Linked DNA regions of Homo sapiens. The protein of the gene in region 2 interacts with the protein of the main gene of each other region in a pairwise test. Each region holds a gene or a part of one and is shown on either strand. Other genes may lie near its edges.

What was found. The genes of interacting proteins can lie anywhere in the genome.
Region 1: the proteins of KIDINS220 (region 2) and MOB4 interact in a two-hybrid assay, tested with the Homo sapiens proteins (one large-scale study listed by BioGRID and IntAct).

What each region holds. Positions count from the first base shown.
Region 1 is NC_000002.12:197,533,066-197,536,565, forward strand, and holds part of MOB4 (MOB-like protein phocein), read left to right. Parts: intron 1-2,464; coding exon 2,465-2,565; intron 2,566-3,500. Other genes in the region: HSPE1-MOB4 protein, read left to right, coding at 2,465-2,565.
Region 2 is NC_000002.12:8,781,961-8,785,772, reverse strand, and holds part of KIDINS220 (kinase D-interacting substrate of 220 kDa), read left to right. Parts: coding exon 1-32; intron 33-3,812. UniProt on the Homo sapiens protein: Promotes a prolonged MAP-kinase signaling by neurotrophins through activation of a Rap1-dependent mechanism. Provides a docking site for the CRKL-C3G complex, resulting in Rap1-dependent sustained ERK activation.

The DNA of each region.
Region 1 (3,500 bases), about 190 Mb from region 2:
TCCAGCCTGGGCGACAGAGTGAGACTCTATCTCAAAAACAAAAAAAAATTTCTATCCATAGAAGGTGTAGTGGGAACAGGAAAGACAAAAATGAATAGACAGATTGCTAATATATACAAATTACAAATGTGGCAGGAAATTGGATGGAGTTCTGTGAGGATTCGAATAATCAGGGAGTGCTTGAGTGTGTTGGGGGAACGAGAGATTTGGACAGAATTGTGATGTGGAATTTGAGGTGGCCTTTGGAGAAGGTATACAATTTAGCTGTATCTCCTCAAGGAGAGAGAGAATCAAAACTTTGAAACATTAGGATGAGATAAAAAAAATCAGGGAGAGTGGTTTCAATAGTAATTAAAGAGTCATTAAAAAGTGTTTGAGGCTGGGTACGGTGGCTCATGCCTGTAATCCCAGCACTTCGGGAGGCCGAGGCGGGTGGATCAGCTGAGGTCAGGAGTTTGAGACCAGCCTTACTAACATGGCGAAACCCTGTCTCTACAAAAAATACAAAAATTAGCCGGGCGTGATGGCAGGTGCTTGTATTCCCAGCTACTCGGGAGGCTGAGGCAGGAGAATCGCTTGAACCCGGCAGGCGGAGGTTGCAGTGAGCCAAGACTGAGCCATTGCACTCCAGCCTGGGCGACAGGAGCAAAACTCCTCAAAAAAAAAAAAAAAAAAAAAAAAGTATTTGATCCCTTTCCCTGTCATCATGGTGTGTGCGTGTGACTCAGTTCTTTGCCATGCCTTCCCACAAGACTTTAAGACTTTTAGAATCAAGTGATTCCTGGCCAAGAAACAAAAGCAAAATCGTCCCATTCCCCAGTGGATTCAGATGAAAACTGAGTAATAAAATCAGGTACAACTCTAAGAGGAGACATTGGAAAAGAACCAAGCTGGGTCTAGAAGGAATTTTACATGAGATGGCACACATACTTAATATTGCATCAAGGTCACTATCATGTCACCATATCAAGCTGAAAATGTCACCATCATCTGGACAGTTGTACATGCTGTATTGGAACAATGGTTTTTCTTTTGGTTTCTATGCTCTGCAGTAGGCTGGTTCAGTACTAAATATGTGAGACCTTTTGTTTGGAAAAAAAAGTTTTTGAGTAAGCAAGTGATATTCAAGAAAGATTGTCTGAAGTAGGCAAAATTGATTGGCTCAAGAAGGCCTTATAGTTAGTAAGTTTTTGTAACCACCCTTTTAATCTGTTCTAACGTATTTAGACTTCAGAATATCAAAAAGATTGCATAAAGCATTACAGAGATCTGAAATTTAAATTTTTATGTTATTACATTTTAAAAATTGAAAGTGACCCTCCCTTGCCTTTTTTTTTAAACTTAGTTTTTTCTGTTAGTCATTTAAAACAACTTTTATTGGATCTAATGAACATACCATACAAATCCCTATACAGTTAGAGTGATTATATTCACAGGGTTGCACAGCCATCACTACAGTCTAATTTTAAAGCTTTTTTGTTGTTGTTTTGTTTTTGAGATGGAGTCTCACTGTGTTGCCCAGGCTGGAGTGCAGTGGCACGATCTTGGTTCACTGCAACCTCCGCCTCCCGGGTCCAAGCGATTCTCTTGCCTCAGCCTCCAGAGTAGCTGGGACTACAGGTGTGTGCCACCACGCCTGGCTAATTTTTTTGTATTTTTAGTAGAGATTGGGTTTCACTATATTAGCCAGGATGGTCTCGATTTTCTGACCTTGTGATCTGCCCACCTCGGCCTCCCAAAGTGCTGGGATTACAGGCATGAGCCCCGACGCCCGGCCTTTTAGAACATATTTATCCTTCCTGAAAGGAAACCTCACCCTCATTAGCAGCCATCTTCAGTCTCTTCTGCCTTCCTCTCTGCCCTCAAGCCCTACACCAGTACAAATCTATTTCCTGTCTCAATAGATTTTCTTACTCTAGACACTTCATATAAACCAAATCACAATATGTACCATAGTTATATTTACATTGCCTATGGTGAAATCCTGTATCTACAAAATATGGAAAAGTTAGCCCGGCGTGATGGCGTGTGCCTGTAGTCCCAGCTCCTCAGGAGGCTGAGGTGGGAGGATTGCTTGAGCCCAGGAGGTGGATATTGCAGTGATCTGAGATTGTGCCACTGTACTCCAGCCTGGGTGATGCAGTGAGACCCTGTTTCAAAAAAAAAAAAAAAAAAAAGAAATTATGGTTTGCAATTTTGATCCAAGTTCCAGTCCTGACAAATACAATATCTGCATTTATGTAGTAGATTCTATCCAAATGAAGTTGAATTGAAGGATAAATAAGTAAGGGTAACCTACTTTTTTTCTTAGTTACTGATTATGATTCTATACTTGGTTTCCTATTTAGTGTATAACCCAAGTTGAACCACAAGAGCAGTTATGTATTAACAAATTATATGTACTTAACATAAGATTTACCAGGTGATATAATTTAATTAACCATAAGAACTTCTTTGTTTTTAGTATATTCAACAGAACATAAGAGCAGATTGCTCCAATATTGACAAAATTCTTGAACCACCTGAAGGCCAAGATGAAGGTGTGTGGAAGTATGAACATTTAAGGTAGGACCTTACATCAAAATACTAATAGTACCTCTCACAAAACTAGCTTTCATATTAATGATAATTATGAATTGTAAAATTTACTATGTAACTGCAGACTAAGAAGCCAAATTTTAAAGCTTTGGCATTTTCAGTGTCACAAGGTTCTCAGCTTTCTTCACTGGTTGTTTCCAGGTCAAATTATGCTGCAGAGTCACTCATTTTGAAAGGTGGTTTATTTCAGAGTTGATAATTTGGACCTGCCTCTGCACCTCTCTTCTTTTCTTTTCTTTTTTTTTTTTTTTTTTGAGATGGGGTCTCACTCTCTTGCCCACGTTGGAGTGCAGTGGTGTAATCACTGCTTACTGTGCCTCTACCTCTTAGGCTCAAGTGATCCTCCCACTTCAGCTTCCAGAGTAGCTGGGACTACAGGTGTGTGCCAGCATGCCTCACTAATTTTTTAATTTTTTGTAGAGACAGGATCTGATTGTGTTGCCCAGGCTAGTCTCAAACTCCTGGATTCAAGCAATTTTCCTACCTTGTCCTCCCAAAGTATTGAGCCACCCTTTCTACATTTATTCATTTGGGCCTTATTATCCCCGCCTTTTTTTTGAAACAGGGTCTTGATCTGTTGCCTAGGCTGGAATGCAGTGGTGCAATCTTGGCGCATTGCAGCCTCTGTCTCCCATGCTGAAGCAATCCTCCCACCTCAGCCTCCTGAGTAGCTGGGACTACTAGTGCATGCCTCTAAGCCTGGCTAGTTTTTTGTATTTTTTGTAGAGACAAGGTTTCACCATGTTGCCTAGGCTGGTCTCAAACTCCGGGGCTTAAGCAATCCACCCACCTTGGCCTCCCACAGTGCTGGGATTACCACCATGCCAGCCTGGGTTTTATTCTTATTTCATGATTTTCCTTAATTGTATCTCTTAACCGCTAATATAGTATTTCCGTTTCCC
Region 2 (3,812 bases):
TGCACAAATTGAAAAGTGAAGGATTCATGAAAGTAAGCACTCATTGGTTATTAGAAAAAATTGTAATGCGAATATGTTGCCACTGCCATGCTCATTTGGGCTTTAGGAAGTACACTCTCTAAATGTTAAAGTGTTGCATTTATTTTAGTTTAATTTGTTCATTCATTCATTCGTTCATTCAAGACTATAATTTAAGGTAGTTTTAAGTTCACGGTAAAATTTAGAGGGAAGTGCAAAGATATCCCATATACCCACTTCCCCCACACATACACAGCCTCCCCAATTGGCACGATTACCCACCAGAGCAGTACATTTGTTACAATTGATGAACTTAGGCTGACACATCATAATCACCCAGCATCCATAGTTTACAGTAGGGTTCACTCTTGGTGTGGTACATTCTGTGGGCTTGGACAAATGTATAACATGTATCCACCATTATAGTCTTATACAGAGTAGATTTATTGCCCTCAAAATCTTCTGTGCTTCACCTCTTCACACCTGTTCACCCCTCCCTCCACCCTCCTCCCTAACCCCTGGCTACCATTTCTTTTTACTATCGCCATAGTTTTGCCCTTTCCAGAATGTCATATAGTTGAATCATACATGTGTAGTCTTTTCAGATTGGCTTCTTTCACGTAGTCATATGCATTTAAGTGCCCTTCATGTCTTTTCATGACCTGCTAGCTCATTTCTTTTTAGCATGGCTAATGTGCCATTGTCTGGATATATCACAGTTCATTTATACATTTATCTACTGAAGGACATCTTTATTGCTTCCAAGTTTTGGCAAGTATGAATAAAGCTGCTATAAACTTTTGTGGACAGGCTTTTGTGTGAACATAAAGGATTTGAAAACTCCTTTGGGTAAATACCAAGGAGTGTGATTGCTAGATTGTATGATGTTTCGTTTTGTTAGAAACAACCAGACTGTTCTGAGGTGGCTATTTTGCATTCCCACCAGAAATGAATGAGGCTCCTGTTGCTCCACATCACATCCTCACCAGCATTTGGTATTATTGGTGTTCTGGATTTTGGCCATTCTGTTAGGTGTGCAGTGGTATCTTATTGTTTGAATTTGCATTTCCCTGATTACACATGTTGTGGAGCATATTTTCATGTGCTTATTTGCTATCTGTATGTCTTCTTTGGTGAATTGGCTGTGAAGGTCTTGGCTTATTTTTCAGTCAGGTTGTTCATTTTCTTATTGTTGAGTTTTAAGAGTTCTTTGTGTATTTTGGCTAATGGTCCTTTATCAGATAAGCTTTTTGCAAATATTTTGCTCCATTCTTTTGGTTGCTTTTCATTCTCTTGACAGTGTCTTTTGCAGAGCAGACATTTTTGATGAAGTCTAGCTTACTAATTCTTTCTTTCATGGATCTTGCTTTTAGTGTCCTATCTAAAAAGTTAACACCAAACCTACGGTCACCTAGATTTTATCCTCTGTCATTTTCTAGGTGTTTTATACTTTTGCATTTAGGTCTGTGAGCTATTTTGAGTTAATTTTTGTGAAGTGTGAATGTGTCTAGATTCTTTTCTTGCTTGCTTTCTTGCTTCCTTGCTTCTTTTCTTTTTTTTTTTTTGTTTCCAGTTGTTCCAGCACCATTTGTTAAAAACGCTATTTCTTGCATTGTATTGCCTTTGCCGCTTGTCAAAGATCAATTGACTATATTTGTGTAGGTCTGTTTCTGGGCTCTTTCTCTTTGTCTGTTCGTTTGCGCATACCACACTGTTTGATTACTCTAGCTCTATTTTCTTGAAGTTGGGTAGTGTCAGTCCTCCTATTTTGTTCTCCTCCTTCAATACTGTGTTGGCTATTCTGGGTCTTTTTCTCCTCATATGAACTTTTGATTCACCTTGAATAACTTGCTGGGATTTTCATTGAGATTGCGTTAAATCTTTAGGTCAAGTATTGAGTCTTCCTACCCATGAACATGGAATATCTCCTCATTTATTTAGTTCTTCCTTGATTTCTTTCAAGAGTTTTGTGGTTTTTCTCATATAGATCTTATACATATTTTGTTAGATTTATACCTATTTCGTTTTTTGCAGTGTTAATATATATAGTAATTGTGTTCTTAATTTCATGTTTGACGCTGATATATAGGAAAGTGATCAACTTTTGTATTAATCTGAAATCTTGCTATAATTGTTTGTTAGTCCCAGGAGTTTTTTTTCATTGTGGTTCTTTCGGTTTTTCTACATAGAGAGTCAAGTCATCTGTGAACTAAGACAGTTTTCTTTCTTTCTTCCCAGTCTTCATACCTTTTATTTCCTTTTTGTTTGTTTGTTTTATTGCATTAGTTAGGACTTGCAGTACTATGTTGAAAAGGAGTGGTAAGAAAAGGGACAATCTTGCCTCGTTCCTGATCTTAGTAGATGTTTTCATGTTCTCACCATTAAGTATGATGTTAACTACAGATACTCTTTATCAAGTTGAAGAAGTTCCTCTCTATTTCTAGTTTACTGAGAGTTTCTACCATAAATGGTGTTGGATTTTGTCAAATGCTTTTGCTTTATCTAATTATGCAATCATGTGATCTTTCTTCTTTAGCCTGTTTCTTTTTTTTTTTTTGAGACGGAGTTTTACTCTTGTTGCCCAGGCTGGAGTGCAGTGGTGCCATCTCAGCTCACTACAACCTCCACCTTACGGGTTCAAGTGATTCTCCTGCCTCAGCCTCCCAAGTAGGTGAGATTACAGGCATGCAACAGCATGCCCAGCTAATTTTGTATTTTTAGTAGAGACGGAGTTTCACCGTGTTGATCAGGCTGGTCTTGAACTCCTGACCTCAGGTGATCCACCCTCCCTCCTCGGCCTCCCAAAGTGCTGGGATTACAGGCATGAGCCATTGTGCCCAGCCTAGTCTGTTGAAGTGATGGATTACATTAATTGATTTTTGAATGTGGAACCGGCCCTACCTACCTGGCATAAATCTCACTTGATTGTGGTGTATAATTCTTTTTATACATTTTGCATATGATTTTCTAATATTTTGTTGAGGTTTTTTGCATCTATGCTCATGAGATATTTATTGGTTTGTAGTTTGCTTTTCTTGTCAAGACTTCGTCTGCTTTGGGTATTAGGGTGATGCTGACTTCATAGCATGAGTTAGGAAGCATTCCCTTTGCTTCTGTCTTCTGAAAGATCCTATGTAGAGTTGGTATAATTTCTTCTGTAAGTGCTTGGTAGACTTCATTAGTGAACCCTCTGGGCCTGGTGCTTTCTGTTTTGAAAAATTATTATTGATGCAATTTCTTCAATAGATATAGGCCTGTTCTTGTGAATTTTGGCAAATTATGTCTTTGAAAGAACTGGTCTGTTTATCTAAGTTATCAAATTTGTGGGCATAGAGTTGTTTGTAGTATCCCTTTATTATCCTATTTTTGTCCATGAGGTAGGTCTAAAGTGGTAGCCTCTCTTTTATTTGTTGTTTTTCTGAATTTGTGTTTCCTCTTCTTTCATCTTAGTTAGTCCAAGGCTTATTGATTGTGTTTATCTTTTGAACTAACTAGCTTTTGGTTTCATTGTTTTATTTCTGTTTTAGTTTTTATTATTTCTTTTCTTCTGATTACTTTGGATTTAATTTGCTCTTTTTCTAGTTTCCTGAGGTGGAAGCTTAGATTATTAATTTTATTTTATTTTTATTTATTTATTTTTTGAGACAGAGTCTCACTCTGTTGCCCAGGCTGTAGTGCAGTGGTGCGATCCCAGCTTGCTGCAATCTCTGCCTCCTGGGCTCAAGGGATCCTCCCACCTCAGCCTGCCGAGTAGCTGGGACCACAGGCTACACGCCACCACACCTGGCTAATTT